Linked DNA regions of Homo sapiens: all the other regions are linked to region 4. Evidence: fine-mapped expression QTL. A gene starts in region 4. Each other region holds a variant in brackets. All regions are shown on one strand. Distances are between the middles of the regions.

Evidence for each region. PIP is the estimated chance that this variant, and not a neighbour inherited with it, causes the effect.
Region 1: its variant is fine-mapped to the expression of ABR in esophagus mucosa (GTEx, PIP above 0.99).
Region 2: its variant is fine-mapped to the expression of ABR in blood mononuclear cells (TOPMed, PIP above 0.99). The same link has a PIP of 0.9 or more in whole blood.
Region 3: its variant is fine-mapped to the expression of ABR in whole blood (INTERVAL, PIP above 0.99).
Region 5: its variant is fine-mapped to the expression of ABR in cerebellar hemisphere (GTEx, PIP above 0.99).
Region 6: its variant is fine-mapped to the expression of ABR in whole blood (INTERVAL, PIP above 0.99).
Region 7: its variant is fine-mapped to the expression of ABR in whole blood (TOPMed, PIP above 0.99).

Annotation. Positions count from the first base shown.
Region 1 is chr17:1,087,937-1,091,936 of GRCh38, reverse strand. ABR (ABR activator of RhoGEF and GTPase) reads left to right here. Exons shown (of 23, transcript NM_021962.5): 4 at 87-272. Among named protein-coding and RNA genes, the nearest start is that of MIR3183, 67 kb to the right of the region's middle. The variant G/A (reference allele first, on the strand shown) is at 2,207.
Region 2 is chr17:1,113,144-1,117,143 of GRCh38, reverse strand. The region is part of intron 2 of ABR (ABR activator of RhoGEF and GTPase); the gene reads left to right. Among named protein-coding and RNA genes, the nearest start is that of ABR, 65 kb to the left of the region's middle. RefSeq lists an enhancer at 1,772-2,415. The variant C/T (reference allele first, on the strand shown) is at 1,892.
Region 3 is chr17:1,052,031-1,056,030 of GRCh38, reverse strand. The region is part of intron 14 of ABR (ABR activator of RhoGEF and GTPase); the gene reads left to right. Among named protein-coding and RNA genes, the nearest start is that of MIR3183, 31 kb to the right of the region's middle. The variant C/T (reference allele first, on the strand shown) is at 2,101.
Region 4 is chr17:1,177,746-1,181,745 of GRCh38, reverse strand. ABR (ABR activator of RhoGEF and GTPase) reads left to right here and starts at 1,765. Exons shown (of 23, transcript NM_021962.5): 1 at 1,765-2,079. The coding sequence starts at 2,019. It overlaps ABR-AS1 (ABR antisense RNA 1), which reads right to left and starts at 119. Exons shown (of 3, transcript NR_187271.1): 1 at 1-119. RefSeq lists an enhancer at 958-1,724.
Region 5 is chr17:1,043,748-1,047,747 of GRCh38, reverse strand. The region is part of intron 16 of ABR (ABR activator of RhoGEF and GTPase); the gene reads left to right. Among named protein-coding and RNA genes, the nearest start is that of MIR3183, 23 kb to the right of the region's middle. The variant C/T (reference allele first, on the strand shown) is at 1,728.
Region 6 is chr17:1,100,063-1,104,062 of GRCh38, reverse strand. ABR (ABR activator of RhoGEF and GTPase) reads left to right here. Exons shown (of 23, transcript NM_021962.5): 3 at 3,328-3,426. Among named protein-coding and RNA genes, the nearest start is that of ABR, 78 kb to the left of the region's middle. The variant A/G (reference allele first, on the strand shown) is at 2,079.
Region 7 is chr17:1,107,383-1,111,382 of GRCh38, reverse strand. The region is part of intron 2 of ABR (ABR activator of RhoGEF and GTPase); the gene reads left to right. Among named protein-coding and RNA genes, the nearest start is that of ABR, 71 kb to the left of the region's middle. The variant T/C (reference allele first, on the strand shown) is at 1,825.

The DNA of each region.
Region 1 (4,000 bases), 90 kb after region 4:
AAGGGCTAACGATCGGCCCCGGGGCCTGCCGACACTCTGGTTTGTTTACCCCCGACCTCTGCTCTTTCTTCCTCTGTTTCTCCCAGCCCATGAAACCCCTGAAGGCCACCGCCACCACCTCCCAGCCCGTGCTCACCATCCAGCAGATCGAGACCATCTTCTACAAGATCCAGGACATCTATGAGATCCACAAGGAGTTCTATGACAACCTGTGCCCCAAGGTGCAACAGTGGGACAGCCAGGTCACCATGGGCCACCTCTTCCAGAAGCTGGTGAGTCTGCCAGGGATGGAGGGTCCTCACGCAGGGCCTCAGTGGAGCCCATAGTGTTGCAGGAGCCTCAGGAGAGGACCGGGCAGCCCTCTCGGACTCCTTGAAGGCCTGAGACCTCTCCGAGTCCGGGAGGAAGGCCTGGGCCTGTGTGTTATGGGGTGCCTGGGGCCGGGGCCTTGACTCTAGGCCTCCCCTGGTGCAGCCCTGGGAGCTTCTGGGGTGGTGGAGACAGGCTGTGTGGATAGGTCCTTCCAGGGGTGGTGGAGATGGGCTGTGTGGATGGGCACTTCTGTGGGAGCACCATCTCTCTCCCGGAGGGTGCTCCTTCTCCCTCCCGGAGGGTGCTCCGTCTTTCCCGGACGGTGCTCCCTCTCTCTCCCGGAGGGTGCTCTGAGGAACCAGCCCTGGAATGAAGGCTTCTTGCTGGGCTTCAGTCTCCTGTCCCTCAGTGAACAGAGGGGCACATGCCGGGTTAGGGGCATGAGGACTGCTCCCCTGAGACCTCGGGTCTGTAAAAGGAAGCAGTTGGGCACACTGGCCGATGATCCTCTCCTGAGGTCCCAAGAGCAGGAAGCACTGAAGCCCAGCCCTGCTCACCACTGCAGGGTCGGGAGCGGCAGGAGTGGGTGGGTTAACATGCAGACCTCGTGTTGGGAAACGTTCACAGAAGTCTTCTGGTTCCCTGTGCTTCTGTGACACCCTCTCCCCCAGCTCTGCCCCATCTCTGGCTGTGTCCCCTGGAGGACCCCCAGGTCAGACTCATGGAGCTCCCTCCCCACCTCTGCTACGTAACGTCTGACCGCCCAGCAGGCAAGAGGGAGACTGGGAGTCCAGGCCGCGGTTCTTCTCTGGGTGTGAGTGGCCAGAGGACCTTCTCCTCCTTCCTGCCCTGTTCTCTGGGTGTGAGAGGCTGGAGGCCTCCTCCCCTCCCCTGCCGTGTTCTGGCTGAATGGACAGGGCTCTGCCTTTCTCACGCTGGAGAAGACTCTCCCTCTCCTGCCTGGACACTCCTAGGACCTCTAGCTGAGTGTGTTCAGAGCTGAGCTCCCTGCCTCCGGCGTCACCTGCTCCGCTTCCTGTCTTTACCTCACCGAGTGCTTCAGACTCTTTCTGGCTGCACCCCCTCCCCCACCTGTCCTGTGGACTCCACTTTTTGGCCGTTGCTCACAGCCGCCTTTTCCTCTTCTTGGCCACCCATGGCCCTCACCTGGACAGCTGCGTATCCTCCTGTGTGGCTCCTGCCTCCAGGCCCACTCACCTCCCACCCCCACCTCTCCTTAGAGGGGAGAGAGTCACTGAAACCTCGACGGCCCCTTCAGCGGATCCCCACGGCCCTCGGATGAAGGTCAGGCTCCGAGGAATGGCTCGAGAGACCCTTTGCACACTGACCCGTGTCCAGCCCCAGCCTTGGCAGCTTCCTCCCCGCACCTCTGTGCTCCTGACACTGGACTTTCTGTTCTCAGTTCCCAGGGCAGGCACTTTCTTAACTCTTGGTACTTGAGGCCCCGTGTGCCTGAAACGTCCTTCCCCCTCTCGTCTGGCCTCCCCTGGTCAGTTCCCAGCTTAGAAGGGACCTCCTCCAAGAAGGCTTTCCAAGTCGCCAAATGCAGGCCTTGTGCCAGTCCTCGTAGTGAGCACTAGTAACTGCCTGACTCCCCCAAACCACAAGTTCCAGGAGGACGGACTGCATTTCCTTTTTTTGTTGAGACGGAGTCTCACTCCTGTCGCCCAGGCTGGAGTGCAGTGGCGTGATCTCGGCTCACTGCAACCTCCTCCTCGCGGGTTCAAGTGATTCTCCTGCCTCAGCATCCCGAGTAGCTGGGATTACAGGCGCCCACCATCACACCCGGCTAATTTTTGTATTTTTAGTAGAGACGGGGTTTCGCCATGTCGGCCAGGCTGGTCTCGAACTCCTGACCTCAGGTGATCCGCCC[G/A]CCTCGGCCTCCCGAAGTGCTGGGATTACAGGCGTGAGCCACCGCGCCCGGCCTGCATTTCCTTCTTCTTAGACTCCCAGAACCAGCCCAGTGGTCACTGCTTGAATGAGTGAATGCACCGTGACCTTGACCACTGGGCCTCGGGAGAACTCGGAAGGGCATGGAGGGAGACGTTGCAGGGCCTGAGATTTCTGTCCTGAGAGTCCTGTTTCTCCAGCACAGCTTCTAGAGCCGTGTCACAAAGTGGGCTTGAATCCCAGCGCTGCCAGATTAAACCTGCAACTGGGCAACTTACCCAACCGCTCTGAATCAGCTTCCTCATCTGTAAAAAACAGGATAGTAACAGTATTTACCTCATTGGGTGATTTTGAGGAGTTAATATCTGAAAACTGCATGGGGCTGAGTGTGGTGGCTGACGCCTGTAATCCCAGCACTTTGGGAGGCTGAGGCTGGAAGATCACTTGAGGCTTAGAGTTCAAGACCAGCCTGGGCAACATAGCAAGACCCTATCTCTACAAAGAAATAGAATAGGCCTGACTGAGCGTGGTGGCTCACGCCTGTAATCCCAGCACTTTGGGAGGCCGGGGTGGGTGGATCGTGAGGTCAGGAGTTCGAGACCAGCCTGGCCTACATGGTGGAACCCCATCTCTACTAAAAATACAAAAAAATTAGCAGGGTGTGGTGGAATGCACCTGTAGTCCCAGCTACTCAGGGGGCTGAGGCGGGAGAATCGCTTGAACCTGGGAGGCAGAGGTTGCAGTGAGCCAAAACCACACCATTGCACTCCAGCCTGGATGACAGACTGAGACTCTGTCTCAAAAAAAAAAAAAAAAAAAAATGGCTGGGCACAGTGGCTCACGCTTATAATCCCAGCAACACTTTGGGAGGCCAAGGTGGGCGGATCACCTGAGGTCAGGAGTTCAAGACCAGCTTGGCCAACATGGTGAAACCCCGTTTCTACTAAAAATACAAAAATTAGCCGGGCATGATAACACGCACCTGTGATCCCAGCTACTACTCGGGAGGCTGAGGTGGGAGAATCGCTTGAACTCGGGAGGCAGAGGTTGTAGTGAGCCGAGATCGTGCCACTCCACTCCAGCCTGGGCGACAAGAGCAAGACTCTGTCTCAAAAAAAGAAATAGAATACAATAAAGTAAAAGAAAAAGTGCTTGGAACAGGGCCTGGAACATCATAAATTAATAAGTACTCAATAACTGGTCATTATCATCAGTGCCATTATTATTATTATTATTATTATTATTATTATTATTATTATTAAATTGGGAAGAGGCACCCTGGAAGGTATCCTTCCAAGGGAATGCCACACTCTGGTTCTAGCATACCCCCCCCTGCTCCCTCCGGTTCAGGGATGGTGAACACCTGTCATCACTGCCTGCTCACCTGAGCTGAGTGGCCTGGGGGGCATCCTCTCCTCATCCCTCAGGAGGGTAGAGGAGAGCAAACCTAGGGTTGCTGGAAACGCTGTCACAGTTTATCTTTGTCACTTGGACCTGGCTGTCCCCGGTTCTGGTCTTGGCTCCACAGGCCTGGCCGTGAATCTGCTACCCACCACTTTCCCTCCCCAGCATCGTGAACCGATGCCTGAGGCCCCTGGGGCTGCAGATTTGGGAGGGCCCGGGGGGAGCCGGGTCAGGTCTGGCATCCGGAGGTGGTTTATTTTCAGCCGAAGACTCTGGGTATTTGATTATTCGTTACTGAGAGAAGGGAATTAGCGTCTCTGCTGTTTGTTTTATGAGATCACTCCAGTGCCAGGCTGCTGTTTCCAGGCAACCT
Region 2 (4,000 bases), 65 kb after region 4:
ACTCAGGCTCAGGGATAACGCTGGGAGGAACTCAGGCTCAGGGATAACGCTGGGAGGAACTGCAGCCTCTTCTTCCCTTTCTTGGTCTCTTCAGAAGGCTTAGGGCTTGGGATTCGAGGTTGCTGGTAGGTGCGTGAAGAGGCGGCATGGCAGCCAGGAACTCCTGAGATGGTGCCTGCTCCACTCCCTCCTGACTGCTCCGGACCTGGGTTGTGTGGTTCAGGGACTCCTCGAGTTTCAGCCTCCGCCCCCCAGCAGCCGGCCCCTGCATTTCTCCCCTTCCTGGATCTTGGGTCCCTGCTGCAAAGAGAAGGACACGAGCTGGACCCTCCCGTGTGCCAGGTGCTGTGCTAGGAGCCCAGGGGCTGCCCTGCCACCCAAGTCCTCCAGCCATGGGGCTGCCCCCGTTTAGTAGATGAAGACACTGAGGCTCAGGGTGGCTCCTGGGCTTGTCCCAGTTGGGAAGGAGGTAAGTCGGAAGTAGGTAGACTAGTGCCTTGGTTGTGACCCTGGGTCCCGTCATCGCTGGCTCCCGTCCTCTCTGGCCCTCCTACATTCACACCTGGCTGGGATCTTGCTCACCTCTGCATACTGTTAATCTTCCCTGATGAACCACACCTGGCTGGCCTGGCTCATCCCACAGCTCTCACGCCCTGTCTGGGATCTCCGTCTTCTGGCTAGCTAGCAGCCCTAGAGTTGATGCCGTAATTACCCCCATTCTATAGATGAGGAAACGGAGGCACAGGGAGACTAGATGACATGCCCAGGTCACACAGTTGGCAAGAGGCAGAGCTGGGGCTCACATCCAGAGTGCAGGGGAGTTTTCTTTCTGTTTTAGTTTATTTGTTTCACTGTATAAACAGTGTTGTGTACCGGCTTCTCCTCAACATTAGCTTTATTTTATTTTATGTAATTTATTTATTTGAGATGGCGTCTCCCTCTGTCACCCAGGCTGGAGTCCAGTGGCGCAATCTCGGCTCATTGCAGCCTCCGCCTCCTGGGTTCAAGTGATTCTCCTGCCTCAGCCTCCCAAGTAGCTGGGATTACAGGCCACCACATCCGGCTAATTTTGTATTTTTAGTAGAGATGGGGTTTCATCATGTTGGCCAGGCTGGTCTTGAACTCCCAACCTCAGGTGATCCGCCCGCCTCGGCCTCCCAAAGTGCTGGGATTACAGGCGTGAGCCACCTCGCCCAGCCTATGTATTTTATTTTTTTGAGACAGAGTCTCCTTCTGTCACCCAGGCTGGAGTGCAGTGGTGTGATCTCGGCTCACTGCAGCTTCCGCCTCCCGGGGTTCAAGTGATTCTTCTGCCTCAGCCTCCCTAGTAGCGGGGATTACAGGCACCCGCCAGTACGCCTGGCTAATTTTTTGTATTTTTAGTAGAGACGGGGTTTCACCACGTTGGCCAGGCTGGTCTTGATCTCCTGACCTCAGGTGATCTGCCCGCCTCGGCCTCCCAAAGTGCTGGGATTACAGGCGTGAGCCACTGCATCTGGCCAACATTAGCTTTATGTAGTTGAACTATGTATATGATTTTGGAGTGACCTGTACTAGAACAGAGAGGAGGCAGAGGGAGGAGCAAGGTGATCTGGAAGGTGACGAATCCAGTCCCATCTGTGGCTGCAGTTAGTGGCTGCAACTGCCCTGGCACTTGCCCTTTGGTGTCAGTTCCCATTGGCTGAAGAGCTACTGAGCTTCATACAGTCTGGAGGTGGGGCTTGAGTTTCTGCCAGGAAAGCTGGGAGAGCCAGGGAGAAGCCAAGAGGCGGGAGAAAGTGCTTCAAGCCGAGGACCTGCCGTTGTTAAAGGCCTGGAAGTGAGAACGTGCCAGGCCCTTTGAGAGGTTACTGTCAACAGTGAGATGGGTGAGTCATCAGCTGGGGCCCCA[C/T]GGCTCTTGTTTGGGCTGGCTTGGTGGCTTCCTGCTGGGCATAGAGTGAGCAGTGTTTTAGAAAGAGTCATCTGATGTCAGCAGGAGGGATGCAGGATGAATGTCCTGTCACACCTGTCCTGAAATCCTCCAGCACCTTCCCTTCGCCTATGGGGCCCCCCTTCCCTTTGCACAGCTGTCAAGGCCTTGTGTGACCTGACCCCTGGACCCCCTGCCTACCTCTGTGGCCTCAGGACCAACTCCGTGCTAGAATTGTGAACTCTCACGAGAGAGAGATTTTGTCGGTTTTGTAACAAAACTTGCTCATTGCAGTCTCTGGTGCCGAGAACTGTGCCTGGCACACAGTAGGTGCTCAGTAAATATTAGCTGAATGAATGCATGAACCAGCCAGACTAAACTCATGTCATTGTGCCTCACATAGTCTCTCTCCTGTCTGTTCCCCAGCCCCACCAGCATCTCTAACCACTGCTTTTTTTTTTTGAGACGGAGTCTCTCTCTGTCACCCAGGCTGGAGTGCAGTGGCGCGATCTCGGCTCACTGCAACCTCCGCCTCCTGGGTTCAAGCGATTCTCCTGCCTCAGCCTCCTGAGTAGCTGGGACTACAGGCGTCCACCACCACGCCTAGCTAATTTTTGTATTTTTAGTAGAGACGGGGTTTCACCGTGTTAGCCAGGATGGTCTCAAACTCCTGACCTCAGGTGATCTGCCTGCCTCAGCCTCCCAAAGTGCTGGGATTACAGGTGTGAGCCACTGCGCCCGGCCATAATTTTTTTTTTTTTTTTTGAGACAGAGTCTTGCTCTGTCGCCCAGACTAGAGTGCAGTGGTGTGATCTCAGCTCACTGCAACCACTGCCTCCCGGATTCAAGGAATTCTTGTGCCTCATCCTCCAGAGTAGCTGGGATTACAGGCCTGTGCCACCCCTCCTGGTTAATTTTTGTATTTTTAGTAGAGACAGGGTTTTACCACGTAGACCAGGCTGGTCACGAACTCCTGAACTCAAGTGATCTACCTGCCTCGGCCTCCCAAAGTGCGGGATTAAAGGCGTGAGCCACTGCGCCCAGCCTAATTTTTTTTTTTTTTTTGAGACAGGGTCTTTCTCTGTGGCCCAGTCTGGAACACAGTAGCACAAACACAGTTCATTGCAGCCTCAATATCCTGACCCAAGCAATCCTCCTGCCTCAGCCTCCCAAGAAGCCGGGACCACAAGAGCATGCCACCACACTCAGCTAATTATTTTTTAAAATTTTTATAGAGATGAGGTCTTGCCATGTTGCCCAGCTGGTCTCAAACTCCTGGGCTTGAGTGATCCTCCTGCCTCGGCCTCCCGAACTGTTGGGATTTCAGGCGTAAGCCACTGCACCCGGCCTATATGTATAGTTTATTCGTGGACACAAATAAGGAAAAATGTATAACTAACTCTTAGAGGCTCCCTCTGTCAGAGGGAACCAGAGGAGACTTTCTCTTTCTTTATTATGTGTGTCTACAGAGTTAGAATTGTTAGTGATGTAACAGGAAAATAAAGAAGTTAAAATAGAAGTGCCACGATTGGGAACGTAGAGTGGGCTCTGAGGGCACCAGCGGGCACATCTGACGCAGCCAACGGGGAGTCACGGGAGGCTCCCTGGAGGAGGTGACGTTTAAAGTCGAATCTAAAAATAAGCAGTGGGCCAGGTGCCGTGTCTCACACCTGTAATCCCAGCCCTTTGGGAGGCCGAGGCGGGTGGATCACCTGAGGTCAGGGGTTCGAGACCAGCCTGGCCAACATGATGAAACCCCATCTCTACTAAAAATACAAAAATTAGCCGGGCCTGGTGGCGGGTTCCTGTAATCCCAGCTACTTGGGAGGCTGAGGCGAAAGAATGGGTTGAACCGAGGAGGCGGAGGTTGCAGTGAGCTGAGATCATGCCACTGCACTCCAGCCTGGGTGACAGAGCGAGACTCCGTCTCAAAAAAAAAAAAAAAAAAAAAAAAAATCGCAATAGGTGTTTCCATGTTATCCCTTCCAGAAAAGTGGCACCTCAGCTGCAGAGTTCTGACACTGCTCCCCTCCCCAGTACGGCCTTGCCCCTCCCTTGACACTGCCTTGGGAGTCAGTCACCAGGTCAATC
Region 3 (4,000 bases), 130 kb after region 4:
GTGCCCTGGCCAGGACGAGGTTGGGTGGGCCATTGTGGATTCTGCACTGCTCTGCCCAGGATGGGGCCCTGCCAGCACGCCTTTAGACATGGGGCATTCCCCTGGAGGCCAGAAACCAGCTCCTCTTGGCAGGGAGGTCACCCCTGGCCTTTGTCTCCAAAGTCCTCTTTCTCAAGCCCTCCCTGAAGCTGTCTGAAACCTAGGGGCCGGGCGCGGTGGCTCACCCCTGTAATCCCAGCACTTTGGGAGGCCCAGGCGGGCGGATCACGAGGTCAGGAGTTCGAGACCATCCGGGCCAACATGGTGAAACCCCGTCTCTACTAAAAATACTAAAATTAGCGTGGGCATGGCGGTGGACGCCTGTAGTCCCAGCTACTTGGGAGGCTGAGGCCAGAGAATCCCTTGAACCCGGGAGGCGGAGGTTGCTGTGAGCTGAGATCATGGCATTGCACTCCACCCTGGGCGACAGAGCGAGAATCCGTCTCAAAAAAAAAAAAAAGAAACCGAGTGCGACAAACACGTGGACTCCAACTTCATATCTGAGGGCGACAAACACGTGGACTCCAACTTCATATCTGCCCATGACAAGCTGTGTGACCTTGGGCAAGTTTCTTAACCTCTCTGGGCCTCCACTAAAAGGCAGTCACGCTTGTGAATTTTGACCCGAGAGCAGGCTGGGATATGATCGTGTGTGTGCAACGCTGGTGTGCTGCCACGCTCATCGCTTTTTCTCCCCTTCCCCCTTGTGGGTTCCTCATACTAAATCTGTTTTTAGTGTCTCACAAAGTAGGATTGCACTTTTTAATTTTTAAAAAATTTTTTTTTAGAGACAGGTTCTCCCCATGTTGGCCAGGCTGGTCTTGAACTCCTGGGCTCAAGCCATCCTCCCACCTCAGCCTCCCAAAGTGCTGAGATTACAGGCGTGAGCTGCTGCGCCCGGCCTGGTTGCGCTTTTTATCTACCTGTTATCCACACGGGAATCTGTGAGTCAGTTAGACAGCTAATAGTTTCTACCCATTTGCCAGAGGAGGTAACCGAGTCACAGAGAGGAGAAAAGACTTAACATCACAGAGGATCAGAAACCCTGACTCTCTCCCTCTCCACCTGCCCCTCCCACTCCCTGCTCTTCACTGGCAGGTGGGGTCTGCCCTCACCCCTCCCTGCAGCGCCCCACACAGAGGTGACTCCCCGGGCCGTTAGAGCAGCCTTTCCCAGGAAGCCTCCCTGAGTTCCTGGGGGCAAACTGGCCTCCCTTCTTTGTCCCTTCTTTGTGCCCACATCCCCTCAGGTTCCTTGTGCCCCCATCCCCTCAGGTTCCTTGTGCCCCCATCCCCTGAGGTTCCTTGTGCCCCCATCCCCTCAGGTTCCTTGTGCCCCCATCCCCTGAGGTTCCTTGTGCCCACATCCCCTGAGGTTCCTTGTGCCCCCATCCCCTCAGGTTCCTTGTGCCCCCATCCCCTCAGGTTCTTTGTGCCCCCGTCCCCTCAGGTTCTTTGTGCCCCCATCCCCTGAGGTTCCTTGTATCCCCATCCCTTTGAGGTTCCTTGTGCCCCCATCCCCTGAGGTTCCTTGTGCCCCCATCCTGCTCAGGGCAAGCTGGTTATGGCACCTGTCATGCTGTTTTGTCACTTAACAATTTGCGTCTCCCACTGTGAGTTCTCTGAGGGCGGGAACCAGGTCTCCTTTACCCTGGGATGCATGGGAGCTCAGAAATGTGGAATGAAGTCGTTAATTTACACAGCACCTACCGTGCACCTGGAGAAGGTGAGAACATGGCTGGCGTGTGGACGTACTCACATGTGCAAAGCCTGTGGCGTGTTCAGAGCCTCTCAGTCTCACGGTCCGCTCTGAGCCTCCGGCATCCCGCCGAGGTCACGGAAACCATCCCTGTTTTACACACGAGGACGCCGAGGCTCGGAGGGGCTCAAGGTTCCTTCCTGGAGTCACACAGTAGCAGGTGGTGCAGCAGAATCCACGTCTTCCGGCACCAGAGCCGGAGCTCTAACCTTTTGGGCACTTCTCGATGTCTGGCCGGGAACACCACACGGTCCCTCAGGCTGCTTGTTACCGTGGAAGCTTCCTGAACTCTCTCCAGACCCA[C/T]AGACCTCCCTTCTTGGGGGCTGCCGCTGAGGAGCTTCTGGCTAGTGAGCTCTGAAGCACTGTCCCACCCATGTCTGGACCAGGCGCCACCACTCCATGTCCCCAGATGCCGCCCCTCCCTCTCCTGCTTCCCGTTGGCCGGGAGGTCCTCGCCTCAGGGAGCCGACCCGTGGCCTCCCAGCCTGGGCGGGTGTCAGAGCCGGCTGAGCTGCTCCAAAATCTCTCTTTACCCCCAGATTATCCTCACTCCCTTCGCCGCCGCCACCCCTGACCCACTCATATGTCTGTTCTCACTCAGAGGTGAGGCCCTGTGTCTTCAGCCGTGGTAAACTCAGGACCTCTGGACAGGCAGGCCCAGGGTGTAGGCACCATGACTTTTCCTGCTGTGCAGACAGGAACCTGGGGAGAGAAGGGAGGTGATCTGTGCAGAGCTGGGGTGTGGACCCAGATGGTCTGACTCCGGAACCCTCGCTCTGACCCTGTGAGCCGTCCCCAGCTCCTTCCGGAACCCTCCCTCTGACCCTGTGAACCCTCCCCCAGCCCGTTCCGGAACCCTCCCTCTGACCCTGTGAGCCCTCCCCCAGCCCCTTCTCGAACCCTCCCTCTGACCCTGTGAACCCTCCCCCAGCCCCTTCCGGAACCCTCCCTCTGACCCTGTGAACCCTCCCCCAGCCCCTTCCGGAACCCTCCCTCTGACCCTGTGAGCCCTCCCCCAGCCCCTTCCGGAACCCTCCCTCTGACCCTGTGACCCCTCCCCCAGCCCCTTCCGGAACCCTCCCTCTGACCCTGTGACCCCTCCCCCAGCCCCTTCCGGAACCCTCCCTCTGACCCTGTGACCCCTCCCCCAGCCCCTTCCGGAACCCTCCCTCTGACCCTGTGAACCCTCCCCCAGCCCCTTCCGGAACCCTCCCTCTGACCCTGTGAGCCCTCCCCCAGCCCCTTCCGGAACCCTCGCTCTGACCCTGTGACCCCTCCCCCAGCCCCTTCCGGAACCCTCCCTCTGACCCTGTGAGCCCTCCCCCAGCCCCTTCCTGAACCCTCCCTCTGACCCTGTGACCCCTCCCCCAGCCCCTTCCGGAACCCTCCCTCTGACCCTGTGAACCCTCCCCCAGCCCCTTCCGGAACCCTCCCTCTGACCCTGTGAACCCTCCCCCAGCCCCTTCCGGAACCCTCCCTCTGACCCTGTGAGCCGTCCCCCAGCCCCTTCCGGAACCCTCCCTCTGACCCTGTGAACCCTCCCCCAGCCCCTTCCGGAACCCTCCCTCTGACCCTGTGACCCCTCCCCCAGCCCCTTCCGGAACCCTCCCTCTGACCCTGTGACCCCTCCCCCAGCCCCTTCCGGAACCCTCCCTCTGACCCTGTGACCCCTCCCCCAGCCCCTTCCGGCACCCTCCCTCTGACCCTGTGAACCCTCCCCCAGCCCCTTCCGGAACCCTCCCTCTGACCCTGTGAGCCCTCCCCCAGCCCCTTCCGGAACCCTCCCTCTGACCCTGTGAACCCTCCCCCAGCCCCTTCCGGAACCCTCCCTCTGACCCTGTGAGCCCTCCCCCAGCCCCTTCCGGAACCCTCCCTCTGACCCTGTGAGCCCTCCCCAGCCCCTCGAGGAGGGGCTCACACCGAGATCAATCCATGATGACAGCACTTCATGGCCCGTCTCAAACACACAGGCCCACTCCCTGGTCTGGCCCAGGCTGGGGTGCTCAGGGCCTCTGTGTTGTTCACCTGCAAATCCCCAGCCCCGTTCTGTGTGTTCTGAGGCCCACCTGGGTCTTCTTTCTGTTGCTCCAGCTGGAGGCTTCTTGGGGTAGCTGCACTGTCCTTTCTGCAGGAAAGCTGGTTTTTTTGGTTTTTTTTTTTTTGAGAAAGAGTCACTTGGTCGCCCAGGCTGGAGTGCAGTGGT
Region 4 (4,000 bases):
CCCTGGGCTGTCTTCCGAGAGTTCCAGGTGGGAAGAAGAGATGCCCTTGGCCCCTCATGGCTCCTCCGGCCTCGCGGTCCTCCGAGAGCCTGCTCGTTCCCTTCCCATGCCGAAGCTCTATTTCTGGAGCGTCTCATTGGAGATGCACGCCCCCTCCCTGCCAAGCTCCAGGTGCCTGCTTGGCCCTCCCAATCCTGTGTGCTAGTCAGGGACGGTGGGAGGGTGACAGCTGCAGGGAGGGGCGGCAAGAGACAGCGCTGGTGCCTGAGCCAGGAGGATTGGGGCGGAGGGAGCCCTGGGGACGCAGGGACGGGCTAATAATATTGAAAACCACTTCTGCTGCAGCCACCTGTAGAGGCTTCCCCACCCAGAGCATCATCCTGTGCGTCTCCCAGGGGCTCCCCAGCCTGTGATGAGTGGGTGACCCCCATCTCCCCTGGGGCAGCTGCAGAGGCCTCTGCCCAAGCAGCTTATGGGGCTTCCTCTCAGCATCCTGGGGGAGGAGCTGCTTCTCCCCTTAAGAACTAGATGTGTGTGTGTCTGTTTGGAGTGATGAGGACCGACCCCCACACCCCTCCAGCGTTCTGCGGGTGCCGACCACACTGCCCCCGGCAAAGGCCAGGCTGACTTAACCTTCCTGGTAGGCCTCTGTAGGGCTGGGCTCCCAGAAGTTTTCCCCTTAAGCTGCCTGGGGATGGGGTGGGGTGGAGACAGCTCCGGTATCTGAAATGTCACTATCTGGGGTACCGGGCCCCCTGGGTGGGCCCCACTGCTTCCCTTTCCCTGGGTTCAGGAAGGGGCTTCAGCCCCACTGCCCTGGACCCCCCTGGCCTGACTCCCCTCCTGTCCTTCCCTGCTCCAGGGTCGCTTGGCCCAAAGAGGTCTGTGGGGAAGCTGCCATGGCTCCCACAGAATCAGCCCACAGGAGACAGGCATGGGGCCCCCAATCTCTTCACTGCCCTTGGGCGAGGGGGTCTTCCTTAGAGGGAATTTCGTCTCTAAACGGTCATTTCTCAGGCCTCTTGACCCGACTTCCCACCATTTCTAGGTGATGATGCAAACACGATGGGCTTTCCAGGCCGCGGCTCGGGGTCCCCAGGAGGGGTCCTGGAGGGGAACGCGTGGAGCCCTTGGGGCTTCTCCTGGCTCCAGTTTGTCCTCCGCCCAGGAGGGGCACATGTGGGACTGTCCTGGCCCCACAGCCCCCGTGACTTCGGTCCTCCCGGGTCTCCACCCGCCCCCCTCCATGTGTGGCGGGAACGGCCGCGCTCAGAGGTCAGGGGTGTGGAAAGGGACGAGCGGGGGAAGGTTCGGGAGGAGAGAGGCGCGTCCCGCGGCGCGCAGGACGTTCACCCCGTGGGTCCCGCAGCGGGTCTGGCTGGGGAGGGGCCCGGCCGCCGCTCCCGCCCGCGAAGCCGCGCTTGGAGATCCCGGGCGGGAGGTGATGTCACCCCTGTGGGCTCCCGGGCCCCCCACGGCACCTGGTTTGCGGATCGCCAGGATCCTGCTGAGCCCGGCGCGGGGGGGACGAGGGGGACCTGGGTCTGCGCCGCCGCCTGGAGACCCCCCGAGACCCCCGCGGCCCCTCCTCGCCCAGCGCCGGAGCCCCGCTGCCCCCTTAGCCCGGCCGGGGGCGTCCTGCGGAGGGCGGAGCCTCGAGCCGATTGGTCCCTCCCCGCCCCGCCCCCGCACCAAAGCCCCGCCCCCGCACCAAAGCCCCGCCCCACCACGAAGCCCCACCCCCGCCCCGCCCCCCGCGAAGTTGCTCATCGGTTCCGGGATCCGCAGCTGGGCTCGGCGCGGCCGCTGGGGCCGGGAGGGTTCGGGAGGGTTTTGGGGGCTCCCGCCCCGCCCTCGCCCCTGCCCCGGCCGCCCCGCGCTCCTCCCGGGGACCTGGTTCCCGGCCTCCTCGCCCCTCCGCGCTCGCAACTTCGGCCTCCCCCGGCTCCCGCCCGCTCTCCCTCCTTTGTTGCGCGATGAGGGTCGGGTTTCGGATCTGACCGAGCCGCCGCCGCGGGATGGAGCCGCTCAGCCACCGGGGCCTGCCGCGCCTGTCCTGGATCGACACCCTCTACAGCAGTACGTGTGCCGGGCGGGGGCGGGACCCCAGGATCGGGATCGGGACCCCAGGATGGAGATCGGGACCCCAGGATCGGGATCGGGACCCCAAGATCGGGATCGGGACCCAGGCACCGGGCTGGTCCGGGGAGCGCGGGCGGGGGCGAGATCGGGGTCCGGATCGGGGTCGGGTTGGGAATCGGGATCGGGGTCGGGACCCAGGAGCCGGGCTGGTCTGGGGGGCGCGGGCGGGGGGTCCCCAGAGAGGATTCCTGCGGTCCGGGGGCGGGGACCGTGGGCGGACCGAGCCGAGAGCTGCGTCCCCCCTCCCACCTGTTGTGAACCCGGCCTCCGCGAGCCTCAGGGGAGGGAGGCCCTTCTGGGTGCTGCCCCCGCCCCTGGACCGGCAGCTTCTCTGTCCAGGCTGAAGCCGAAAGGCCGTTTTGGGAGCAGTCGTTGGCACCCGAGTTTGCCACCCCAGGGGCACCGGGTCATGTGTGGTTCAGGGCCCAGGGGTTCGGTGCTGGGGTGGGATCGGGTGGGAGGGGAGACGGGGGGTGCAGATATCCGCGGGGGCCGTTTGGATGCGGGAGCTGAAAATCCCGGGCTCAGCAATCTTTCCTGCCAGCCTCATCACCACCCCCACCCTCATCATCACCACCACCCTCAGAAGAAAAAAAAAACAAACCTTCTCGAGTTCTCCACCCCCTCGCTCCCAAATCTCTCTGGATCATGTGATTGCTCTTGCATGGCCCCGGGGGATGCGTAACTGATCACGGGTAATGGTGTGGGGGGGCTTGGGGCGAACCGAGAGCCGCCCCCCGCCCCCACCACCGCACCTTGCTCCTGCTCCGTTGCTAGAAAGGCACCGCCCCTTCTCCCCACCCTTCCCTGAGACACCTTTCCCGAAAGCTCTCAGGGATTAGGAAGAGGGTCCTCCTGGGCTTACATAGTGGATTTCGCCCTTCCTGGCCCACGTGAGTGGGACCCTCCCACTCTCTCAGCACATCTCCCAGGCAGGAGTTGGGGGAGGCACGTGGGGCCACGTGGAGCCTGGTTCAGCCTGATTCTAGGCACTGGATGCCATGGAACAGGAGCGTTTTCTTTCTTTTTTTTTTTTTTTGAGACGGAGTCTCGGCTCTGTCGCCCAGGCTGGAGTGCAGTGGCGCAATCTCCGCTCATTGCAACCTCTGCCTCCCGGGTTCAAGTGATTCTCCCGCCTCAGCCTCCTGAGTAGCTGGGATTACAGGTACCCACCACCACTCTCGGCTAATTTTTTGTATTTTTAGTAGAGATGGGGTTTCACCATGAGGCCAGGCTGGTCTCAAACTCCTGACCTCAGGTGATCCACCTGCCTCAGCCTCCCAAAGTGCTGGGATTACAGGCGTGAGCCAACAAGGGCATTTGTAAGGGTCATCCCAGCTAGAGTTCCTTGATAAGTCATATGGGGGGGGTGGGGGGAGTAGAGAAGGGTGATGCCTTGAGCCCCAAAGCCTTACTCTGGAGGCTGTGTGGTACCCAACATTCAACCTCTGACCTCAGCATCCCCTTGGGTCCAGGTCATTCCCTGTATCTTCTTCTCCACCCGCCTCCTCCTCCATCCATGTTCCTTCCTCTCCTCCCCCCAGGAGCTGTCCTTGTGATGGTTCATTCTGCTTTGGTTTCTCAACATCAAAGGGGCAAAGCCGGATCCCCTGGGCATAGGTCCTGTGCCAGGTGCCGCCGCTCCATCTGCTCCTTCCCCTGCAGAGGCCAGCGTCGTTGGGTGAAGGTCAGGGCCCATGGCTGTGTGGCATGTGCGTGCACGTGCGTCTGCATGAATGGGGGCACACATCTGTTCGGAGCGCAGATGCAGATCAGCTCCTGACCCGGAGGCAGGATTAGTGGCCCTCTCTTAGCTGTGTGCTTGCAAACAGCCGTCATAACAATGCCTCAGATTCAC
Region 5 (4,000 bases), 130 kb after region 4:
GGGAGGAAGCCAGGTTATGTTTGGCAAAGCAGAAGGCAGAGTCTGGTAAGGAAAATGTTTCTGTGTTTAAGCTTCGAGGAATGTTAAATGCCTGGGAGTTGATATTAAAAGAAACATAAACCTTCCTGCTGCCAGCTGACCTGGGCCTGTGAGCGGACAGTTCAGAGCCAGAGTCCCCTGCAGGCCTTTGAAGTCCCCCAGCACTCAGCATGCCAAGGCCCGGCCCTGGCCCTCCGCTGCAGAACCATCTCACCAGCCTGCCTTTGGTGGGGGAGGCATGCCCCAGGGGCGGGCTGTGGCTTAGAAAGTCTCGCCCCGTGACTGCCCTCAGAGCCACCGTGGATGGCCAGGCTGGGTGACGAGTCCACACGGAGCTGTTCCCACGAACCCGGGCCCCACGGAGCCACGGAACGGTCTGTCCCCACAGCTTGTCTCTGCCTTCACTCCGGCCACACATCTAAGGAAGGGAGCTGGCACTAGCCTCTGGAATGCAGTCTTTCTGCCCGCCAGCAGGCGCTGAGGACATAGTCGGAGGTGGCTTTGAGATAGGGCCCAGCCCTCGGGGATATTCAGGGGGCCTGTAGGAAAGGCAGGAGGAGGAGGGCAGTCTCTGAGGCCCCCACTTCTCTCTAAGCCCCCTCCCAGCAGCCCATCCAGAGAAAGCAAGGGGCCCTACGGCCTAAGCGCAGGCATTTGCTGCTGTGATGAGGCCCCCACTCTGGGTCGCCTGATGGGGCAGTGGGGCAGGAGTCTCAGCGGCGGGGTGGGGTGGGGGAAGCATTTAGTGACAGACAGACGGCAGCATGCGTCACCAATGTGTGTCCAGCACTTGTGCTCCTGGAGGCCGCTTCCCAAATGCCATCTCCTCGTGTGATCCTTGTCGTGATCCTCCAGGGAGAATGACAGTCCCTCCTCCCCATCTTACAGATGAGGACACTGGGGTACTGAGGTTAAGTACCTTGGCCAAGGCATCTCTGCGTATGGTATGTGGGAAAGGCCATGTTCCCTCCTCTGTGCCATGTCCCCACGTCTCAGGCCTTTGTCAACGAATCCCCCAGCCCGGACAGAGGGCCGTGGCATGGCTAATGGCCTGGAGAAGCAGCTGAGGTGCTGCTTTATGGCATAAGGTGAGCGTCCTTTGTCTTGGAGTCCTCTGGGCAGGGGACACTTGTGCCTGGTGCCCCTGGGAGGAAGGAGAGGAGCACGTGCGGGAAAGAGCAGGAGGCCGAGGTGGGCTGATCACGAGGTCAGGAGTTCGAGACCAGCCTGGCCAACATGGCAAAACCCCTTTCCTACTAAAAATACAAAAATTAGCCAGGCGTGGTGGCACGCGCCCATAATCCCAGCACTTTGGGAGGCCGAGGCGGGCGGATTACAAGGTCGGGAGTTCAAGACCCGCCTGGCCAACATGGCGAAACCCTGTTTCTACTAAAAATACAAGAATTAGCTGGGTGTGGGGCCCACGCCTGTAATCCCAGCACTTTGGGAGGCCGAGGCGGGCGGATTAGGAGGTCGGGAGTTTGAGACTCGCCTGGCCAACATGGCGAAACCCCGTCTCTACTAGAAATATAAAAATTAGCCAGGGGTGGTCGTGCGTGCCTGTAATCCCAGCACTTCGGGAGGCCAGGGCGGGGGGATCACCTGAGGTCAGGAGTTCGAAACCAGCCTGGTCAACGTGGTGAAACCCTGTGTCTACTAAAAAAACAAAAATTAGCCAGGCGTGATGG[C/T]GGGCACCTGTAATCCCAGCTACTTGGGAGGCTGAGGGAGGAGAATCACTTGAACCTGGGAGGTGGAGGTTGTAGTGAGCTGAGATTGCTCCATTGCACTCCAGCCTGGACAAGACAGAATGAGATTCTGTCTGGGGAAAAAAAAGAAAAGAAAACAGCAGGAGGGGTACTTAGCATGCGTCTGTGAGGTCCCCAGCCCAGGAGGGGGTCCTGGCCTCCAGGGACCCACTGTCAGATTGGAAAGACGAGTATATTGGTCCATGTTCTCCAGTGAGAAGAATGCTAGATGTCAGCCACAATAGCCGTACACACATAAGCGAGCCCAGGACGAGCCCAGCACGGTGCTAAATGCTTCCATCTGCTGTCTCAGGAGATCTTCCCAGGACCCTGTGGGAGAGGAATATCATCACAGCTAGAAAGATGAGGAAGCTGGGGCTAAGGAGCCCGGACAAGGCCATGTGCCCAGGAGTGGGCCAGGGCGGGCAGCTGGCTGCAGAGCCCATTTCTAGATGTCCTGCTGCCTCCTGCTATAAGAAGACGGAAGATTGTCCTGCTGTAAGAAGACGGAAGATTGTCCTGCTGTAAGAAGACGGAAGATTGTCCTGCTGTAAGAAGACGGAAGATTGTCCTGCTGTAAGAAGACGGAAGATTGTCCTGCTGTAAGAAGATGGAAGATTGTCCTGCTATAAGAAGATGGAAGATTGTCCCGCAGGAATTCAGAGGCAGAAAGGTCACCATGGGCTGGAATTAGGGAGGCTTCAAGGAGGAGGTGGAACGAGAGCGATTTGGAAGCCCTGGGTTTTTTAATTCCAAAAGCAATGTTTGTATGAGAAAGAAAATTGCAGTAGAAGCAAAGAGACTTGAAACCTAATCAGAAACCATCCTTCCTCCGGCTCCTCCGAAGCAGCCAGTTTATTCTGTGCCTTTTCCCTTCTTGAGGTATACACATTTTTATGTAGATTTAATCAGGGCCTGTTTTGTCTGTTTTTCTGTTTTCATGGATTATTATAAACCTCCTTTTCTCTAGAGCTGTATGGAGTCTTCTTAAGCACCTTTTTGGATACTTTGTTAAAAGTACTTTATATTCTTTGTAGAAATCTTGGTATAGAGCGGCCAGCGCAATTGCTATGCTAAGGCTCTGTGTTATTCCAGCAAGGTGCGCAGGCTCCGCTTCCGCAGAAGGGAGTAGGGTGGGAGTTCTGGAGGACAGACCCGCCTGGCAGGGAGGCACGAATGTGAAGGGAGGGTCCCAGGAAAGTCAGGAGCCTCAGCAGGGGTGGCGGGGAGCTGCAAGCAAGGCCAGTAGAAGGAATGAATAAAAGGAGGGGATTCCTGGGGGTTTGGCCGGAAGAGGTATTTTTTTTTTTTTTGAGATGGGGTCTTGCTGTGCTGCCCAGGCTGGAGTGCAATGGCGCAATCTTGGCTCACTGCAACCTCTGCCTCCCAGGTTCACGCCATTCTCCTGTCCCAGCCTCCCGAGTAGCTGGGATTACAGGCGCCCACCACCATGCCCAGCTGATTTTTATTAGTAGTAGTAGAGACAGGGTTTCACCATGTTGACCAGGCTGGTCTCAAACTCCTGAGCTCAGGTGATCTGTCCACCTCAGCCTCCCAAAGTGCTGGGATTACAGGCCTGAGCCACGGCACCCGGCCTGGAATAAATCTTAGAGGGCGTTTAATCCAATCCTGTTTTCCGGAGAGAAGGAAATGGACACCAGCAAGGGTGAGCGAGGCAGCCGCGGTCACAGAGCTTGTTAGTGGGTGAACAAGGGCCCCAGACTCAGGGACCCCATCCAGGTCCGCTTAGCTGGGAGCCCCCCCTCCACCGGCTCTTGCCCCTGCCCCCGGCGTAGTCTGCCCTGGCTCCTGGTCCCAGGGGACTCCACTGTGTTTATCCTACTCTATTTCCAGCCTTGCCGCTCCAGCTGCAACCTACCCGCTAGCTGATTAGCATATTCCCAGGGTCCGGCCCTTCTTGGCGGGCTGGGCCTGAGGAGAGCGCTTTCCCTTGGGGCCCCACAGCTCAGTTTCTGCCAGCGTCCCCAGACTGGAGAAGGGCCTGAGACCAAGAAGCTACTTAAACCTGAGGGGCCCTCTGCACCCCCTGCCCGCCCCCCGGCCCTGCGTCATTCCCTCGCTCACCGCAGGCTGGGGACAGCCCCCACCCCACAGTCCACCTCTGCTCCCTGTGCCTGGGAGGCAGCTCCACTTCCCCACGTGCCTGCCAGGGCAGCCCCTCCCTGGGCACAGCAGCGCTGAAGACCCTGTGGTGG
Region 6 (4,000 bases), 78 kb after region 4:
GCACGTGGGCACCTCTCCTTCACCTTCGTATTCCCAGTGCCTGGCTCCCGGTGGGAATGGGTGAGTGAGTGGTGAGCCTGGTTTTTGATGAGACAAGAGACGCCCTGCAAAGACTGAAGAAACAATGTGAATTTCCTCATGGCTCTAAACTGGGAATTGTGGAGTCTGAGGAAAGCTGGAAAAGATGGGAGATGGAACAGGCCTTCCTTTGGTGGTGACTGAGCAACGGGTCTCCTGTTAGCCAAGTGCACCGAGGCTAATTTCCCATCCGTACGCTCTCCAACGCCTTTGCTCCAATCTCAGCCAAAACTGCAGCGTGAACGGGGCCCAGAGCAGGACTCTTGGGGCTGACTGTTGCCTCTTGAGGGAGGGTCTTCCTGAGTTGTCTTCCCATCAGAACCAGCCTTTCAAGAGTGGACTATGAATGGAAGTCTTGAGGGGAGGATCTTGCAGAAATGGGCGATTACAGGGCTTCCAGGGTCTATGCTCGTGCCAGGGGGGATGAAGCTTGTTTGTGGCTGGGGCTGCAAATCCCTTTCTTCCCCCCATCCTAGTCCAACCAGCTCTACAGTTACAGCTCACGGTGTGGCATTTGCTAAACCCTCAGGCAAAACCTTGGTTGGCAGGGAACAGGAGGGAGTGCTAGCCCCCAGCACAGGGGATGAGTTCCCATTTGTCAAGGCTGGGAAGCAGCAGGAAGACCCCTGAGGGTCTGACCTGGAGGGGCTGGAGCTGGGGGCTGTTCCAGGCTCTGATCTTGTCCCCCGGGGCTACGTGTGCTGGAGGCTGTGCAGGCCTCTGGCAGTCCCGACTCTCGGTGCCTCAGGAAGATGATAACACCTGCCAGGTTTTGAGACTCCGGTGAATTGAACCACAAAGATAGCTAAGCTCAGTTCCTGGAATTTGTGAAGCCGCCAATAAGTAACTATTGCCCTTGCCTGAAGCGTGGGGTCTGTCTTGCTTTTCTAATGCTGCTGAAACAAATCGCCACAAACTTAAGGGCTTAAAACCACACAAATTTATTCTCTTATACAGAAATCTAAAAAGGATCTCGGCCCGGCTCCATGGCTCACACCTGTAATCCCAGCACTTTGGGAGGCCGAGGCGGGCGCATCACCTGAGGTCAGGAGTTTGAGACGAGCCTGGCCAACATGGTGAAACCCCATCTCTACTAAAAATACAAAAATTAGTGGGTGTGATGGTGGACGCCTGTAATCCCAGGTACTCGGGAGGCTGAGGCAGGAGAATCGCTTGAACCTGGGAGGCAGAGGTTGCAGTGAGCTGAGATCATGCCATTGCACTCCAGCCCTGGGCGACAGAGGGAGACTTTGTCTCAATAAGTAAATACATAAATAAATAGATTAATTAAAATAAAAAGGATCTCCAGGGCTGCATTGCTTCTGGAAGCTCTAGGGCAAGCTTTTCCAGCCTGCGGCCATACGGCCCAGGACTGCTTTGAATGTGGCCCGACACAAATTTGTAAACTCTTAAAACATTATATATTTTTCTTTTAGTTCATCTGCTGTCGTTAGTGTTATTGTATTTTATGTGTGGCCCAAGACAGTCGTCTTCTTCCAGTGTGGCTCAGGGGAGCCAAAAGATCGGAAGCCCCTGCTCTAGGGGAGTGAGTTCATTTTATTGCCATTTCCAGCTTCCAAAGGCTCTCTGCATTCCTTAGCTCGTGGCCCCATCCTCTGTCTTCAAACCTACCAGTGTAGCATCTTCCAAGCAGTCCCTCACCACTACCCTGTCTCCCCGGCCCTCTCACTCCCCTTCTGTGGCCACGATGCCTCAGGGAAAGATGGCATTTTAGGCAGCAGGTAAAGAACGAACCGAAAGCTAGAGACCTTTGAAGATGAGGAGGCTGGTTCTCCTGCGTGTGGGGGAGACTGAGCGATGTCCTGGCTGTGGGAAAGACTGGAAGGGTAGGGACGGGCATCCGGGCCACTGCAGGTGGCTCATAAAGGATATGGTGGGCCCCATGTCCCAGTCTAGGGCCGAATCTTTACTTGTTTTTTAAATGTCTTTCCGGCAGGGTGCGGTGGCTCACACCTGTAATCCCAGCACTTTGGGAGGCC[A/G]AGGCGGGCGGATCACGAGGTCAGGAGATCGAGACCATCCTGGCTAACACGGTGAAATCCCGGCTCTACTAAAAATACAAAAAGTTAGCTGGGCGTGGTGGCGGGAGCCTGTAGTCCCAGCTACTCGGGAGGCTGAGGCAGGAGAATGGCGTGAACCCGGGAGGCGGAGCTTGCAGTGAGCCGAGATCGCGCCACTGCACTCTAGCCTGGGCGACAGAGCGAGACTCCGTCTCTAAAAAAAAAAAAAAAAGAAAAAATAAATGTCTTTCCCACTAGAGTCTAAGCCACTTGAGAACAGGGGCCACTGTCTGTTTCCCATGGTATCTATAGGGCCTGGTGGACATTCAGTAAATATTTATTGAATGAATAAATAAATGGACACATAGCCCAGTGGAATCCCCAAGTACTCGCGTTTTGCGGTATTCATACTCGGTCCTTGGCAAGCATCGGGCAAGGTGGCACTCTTAGGAGTTGAATCCAGCTCTGGTGTGTGGGACAGGCAGGAGGAGAGGAAGAGAGGGAGGAAAAGTCGGTTCGAGAACCCAGGTGGAAAATAGATTGAGGGAAGCAAAACGAGATGTTACAGGAGGAATATGGGTGATTGTCTTTTCCTTTTATATTTCTGCATGTTTTGTATATTTTTTATAATAATATCTGACTTTTATCCCCTATGAAAGTGTCGCTTAAAATAAAAGGAAAGGGGAAAGGGGGGCCGGGCGCGGTGGCTCACGCCTGTAATCCCAGCACTTTGGGAGGCTGAGGCGGACGGATCACCTGAGGTCAGGAGTTCTATACCAGCCTGGCCAACATGGTGAAACCCCATCTCTACTAAAAATACAAAAAAAATTAGTCTGGCATAATGGCTGGGCATGGTGGCTCACACCTGTAATCCCAGCACTTTGGGAGGCTGAGGTGGGTGGATCACCTGAGGTCAGGAGTTCTATATCAGCCTGGCCAACATGGTGAAACCCCATCTCTACTAAAAATACAAAAATTATCTGGGCATGGTGGCAGGTGCCTGTAATCCCAGCTACTCGGGAGGCTGAGGCAGGGGAATCACTGGAACCCGGGAGGCGGAGGTTGCAGTGAGCCGAGATTGTGCCACTTTACTTCAGCCTAGGTGACAGAGCGAGACTTCGTCTCAAAAAAAAAATAAAGGTCGGGGGGGAAGGGCAGGGAAGCAGACCGTCCACGCAGGGTTTTGGCCTCCTTGCTCATGAGCTGTTGGCTGTGCTTTGCGTTTGTGCAGGTGGAAGCAGGGAAAGGCCTGGAGATGAGGAAGCTGGTTCTCTCGGGGTTCTTGGCCAGCGAAGAGATCTACATTAACCAGCTGGAAGCCCTGTTGCTGGTGAGTACAGTCCCTGCTCTGGGGCCTTCCGGTCCCCCCGCCCGTGTTGGGTGATGTCATGCTCTGAAGCTGCTTTTGGAGTTGGAGAGGAAAGGGGACCGTACCCGTCCCTCCCTGTGGACAGAGTCTGCAGCTGGTCTGCTTCTGGCTGGGCATCGGGCAGCCCGGGTCATTGCCAGAAAGGGCCTGTGCCTCTCAGCTCCAGCTCTCAAAAGGCAGGAGAAGCACACCCGGCTTAGAGATGGCAAACACACCTGTCACCCACGACCCTGGCATAGGGCATCGTGAACCCATCATGGTGCTCTGCCTGCCTGGGCGGGGGCCGAGCGCCTTCTCCACGCTGTGCTCTGGGCAGTCATTCCCAATCAATCCAGTTAAGAAGTCTCTGCCGTCTTGTGTCCAAGTCCTTCTACCTCCCTGGGTGAGGGAACCGTTAGTGCCATCCTGAGGCCCCGTGTCAGGAAATATGAGGTGGGAGGCTGTGTTCTTTTTTTTTTTTTTTTTTTTTTTAAGACGGAGCTTTGCTCTTGTCACCCAGGCTGGAGTGCAGTGGTGCGATCTCGGCTCACTGCAA
Region 7 (4,000 bases), 70 kb after region 4:
GTCTGTGTCTGATGGAGGGGCACTCTCATTACTCACTGGAATTTCCAGCCACCGGGGACAGGGTGGAGTAGAGAGGCCCTGGATACTCAGGGAGTCACTTGTGTGGGGTTCAGGGATTTTGGGAAGAAGTGGGCGTCAGTCTCACCATGCCGTGTAGAGGTGTGGGGAACGGGGACGAGGATATCCTGGCAGACTTCCAAGGGCACCTCATGTCCTCTTGAGTGGAGGAAGGAACACAGCAGGGGCCTGTGGGGTTTTAGGCCCTTCTTCGTGTCACCTGCAGGTCTGACTCATGTGGGCAGCCCATGCCATGCACTTGGAGCCCGCCGGGCGGGAGACAGAAGAACCCGTGGTACCAGGCCCTGAGCTGGCATACTTGTGCCCTGGGGAATGCCAGGCCTGGTCGTTCCCAAGCCCTCGCCACAGCCTCACCCGCCCGCACCAAATGAGGAATTGTGGCTGAAAGGGCCCTTCAGATGCGCCCTGGCTATTTATAACCCACCCAGGCAGGGACAGGGGAAAACCAGGGGCTGGAAGGAGATGGGTGGGGTGGGGGTGTGCCTCTGTTGAACCCTGGTGGCACAGTTCCCTGATCAAAGGCTGTTAGCCCTGGGGCCCCTCAAGGGCTCACCCCGCAATCCCCTGCTCTGTATTTCAGCTCTGCAACAGGATGGAGCCTCTCTCCAGGGAGGGCAGCTTCTCTGCTGCCAATGGAATTGCATGAGCCCCACCTAGAGCCCAGAGCTTCTGAAGAATTCTGGGGGGAGTGGGGGGCTGTGGCCTGAACTCGGGCCACAGGTGTGGTTCATTTAGACGGCACCATGTTGTTTTAAAATGTTAATTATTTGCCATCGTTTTAAAATCAGGAGCATTCCTGTTAATAAGCCAGATTTTAGCTTATTTTGAACAGAGATCAGGCAGCCATGAGCTTGCGTTTCCTCCAGCAGCCATCGGCTGGAGTGAGTGGTGGTTTCACCCTGCCCTACCTGGCTCGCTTCACCGGCTGGCCTCACCCGCAGGCCTCACCCGCACCCTCATGGGTGCCGTTTGCAACCTTTGCTCCATCGTTGGGTTGTAAAAGAGCTTTTCCCAGGGCCTCCTCTGGACTCCTCCTCCCATGGAAGGAGGTGTATGTGCATCTGGGAACTAGGGCCAGGGGGACCAGAATGTGGCCTCACTCCCTGCACAGTTGGGGGTTCTGCAACCATTGGAGAAGCCAGGGGAAGCTGGCTGGGAGTGGGCAGGGCCGGAGATGGTGCCTGTCCTGGGTTCTGTGTGCACTCCCCTTGCAGGATGGCTCCCTGCGGTGGGGTGGCTGGGGGGGCTGCTTGGAGGAGGTGGGGGTGCTGGTCTCAGCAGTGCCTGTGAGTAGGTGGGAGGCTGCTCAGAGGAGGTGGGGGTCCTGGTCTCTGCAGCGCCTGTGAGTAGGGGGGCTGGTCTGTGAGTGGGGGGGCTGCTCAGAGGAGGTGGGGGTGCTGGTGTCAGTAGCGTCCGTGAGTGGGGGGACTGCTCGGAGGAGGGGGGCTGCTTGGAGGAGGGGGATCCTGGTCCCTGTGAGTGGGACGCCCACCGCTCCTGTGCAGGACAGTGGTGGCGCCGCGCTCCTGCCTGGGGGCAGGTCAGGCCTGTCTGTTGCAAAGCCTGACTCCTCCAGCGGCGGCGGGACGCGGCTGTGGCTTCTGGGCGGGCCGGGGCCTCCCCTCCGGAAGGGGGCTCCGGCGCATGGGGACTCCGGGGTGGCTCTGGGGGTCGCCCCTGCTCGCCGGGCTCCTGGCTCGGCCGCGCGCGGGGAATGAAGATGCGTCTGGGAAGCGGCCTCCCCGC[T/C]CCACCCCACCCCGGCCCGGCCGCGGCCTCCTCGCTCCTCCTCCGCCGCAGAAGCCTCCGCCAGCCGCGGCCCCGCAACCCCAGAGGACGGGCGGCTCCACCTCGCGACGCGCGTTTCCTGTGTGTTCGGAGCGAGCGCGAGCCCGAGCCCCGGAGCCCGGGAAGGGCGGGCCCTGCGGGGCCGGGCGGGACACGGAGGAGGGCGCTGGGCTGCTGTGCGGCGGGTTCGCCTCCGCCACGGGCCGGGCACGGCGTCAGGGGCTGCCCGGGCCTTGCTCCCCCTTTCGCCGGGCGAGGACGCGCGAGGCGGCGGCGGCGGCGGCGGAGCGGGCTGGACTAGGTCCGGGATGCAGTCCCGGGTCGGGAGCCCCAGGCCGGGCGCGCGGGTGTAGACCTGCCCCCCCTCCCGCCCGCCTCCTCCCTCCTCCCTCCTCCCGCCGCCGCTGCGTGGACCCCGCTTCCTGTCTGCCCTCCGCGGGCTCCGGCTGCCATGGAGGAGGAAGAGGAGGCGATAGGCTTGCTGGACAAGGTTCTGGAGGACGAAGATGTGTTTCTCCTGGAGGAGTGCGAGCTGGGAACCCCGACCAGCCCCGGCTCAGGGTCCCCCTTCCTGGTGGCTGTGAAGGTGGGAGCGTGACACGCCCTGGGCGCTGGGGGGGGCCGGGCCGGCGCTGCCGAAGGTGCGCGGGAGAAATGGCTGATGCGGGCGCAGAGCGCGCGGCCGGGTGGAAGCCCTCGGCGGAGGGTCCCGGCCCCGGCAGCTGTTCCCGGGGGAGAGGGGCGGGCCTGCCTCCCCGACCGGTGTCCTCGGGGCAGTGGTGGCCGCCCCCTCCAGGCCAGCCCAGCTCAGGGCTCCGGCGGCTGTGCCAGGAGTCACCTGGCGCGCCTGTCAGCCCGAGCCTCGCCGCCTCCCTGGAGCGGGTGGGCAGGAATCCCCCGTTTCCACGGCAACCGCAAGAGAGGGGCCACCCTCTTCCCAGCCAGGAGACAGGGACTTGGTGTCTCCGAGCTGAGGCAAGAGGGTGTTTGCAAAGGGCAAGAGCCAGAGGTCACTGAGCTTCCTTGAAGGAAAAGCACTGGGTCAGCTGAAGGGGGGAGGGAACAGCTGGCTTGGAGGCTGCAGCCAGGTGGGCAGGTGCCCTTCCCGAGGCGGGACAGGCAGGGAGCATCTGCTGGGCCCTGGCCCACCCGCTCTGGGGCTGACGGCGTTCTCTGCAGCAGTGACCCGTCCTGTAGGAGAGGTTGGCTCCCGGTGGAACTGGAGGGCAGTGGTGGCCAGAATCCCTTGAGGAGCGGGGCGGCCCCGGAACCACGCCGGCTCTGTGAGTCTGGCCCGGCACACCACAGCGGTCTTCCTTTTTCTCTCCTGGACACACCTCTCAGAGCTTCCACCTCAGCCTTTTGCTCAGCTGCTCTCTGGTTCTGTGTCGAGAAGGGAGGCCCAGTGAGGATGCGTTTCGGGGAGTTTGCAGACTGCTAGGCGAGGCTGCCTAACCGAGTGCCCATCGGCGGGGCCTAGAAGGCATGTGCAGCCAGCATTGCTGGGGACGGGAGGCTGTCCCTGAACCTCTCTGGGCCTCCCTGCCCCTCACAGAAGATGGGGATCACAGTCCTGCCCCACCCACTCTACAGTGTGGCTCTGAGGAGGAGCCAATGGAGGTAAAAATAGATGCAGAACCACGGGAGATGGCTGATGTGTGAGTATGGGTGGAGCGGTGGCTGCAGGCCTGGGTGGGGAGTGGAGCTGTAGGGAGGCTGGCAGTGGCTGGCACCCCACCCTGTCTTCTCTGATCTGGTGCTGGCGTAGGGCCGTGGGGGTAAGTCACGTCTCCCCGTGGGCTCAGGGAGGCCTCTGCACTTAGGGTCTGACCAGCCTCCCCACTAGGAACAGGGTGGGAAAGTCTGCTCCTGAGCCAGGAGTCAGGCTGGGAGTAGCAATGCTGGGATGGGAGGTGTGTGGCCCTCATGGGCCTCCTCTGGGAAGCCCCCAGCACAGATGTGGGCCCACTCAGAGGCTGCCTCCTGGACCTCCCCTTCTGCTGGACCCCGGCGTATGCCTCAGCTAAGCCCGTATTTCATTCTGCTCAGATGCTCAGAACTCTAGACATTTGCCTCCGCAATTATATCCCATTCTCCTGGAGGACCAGGACCATGTCATATTCATTGCTGAACACTG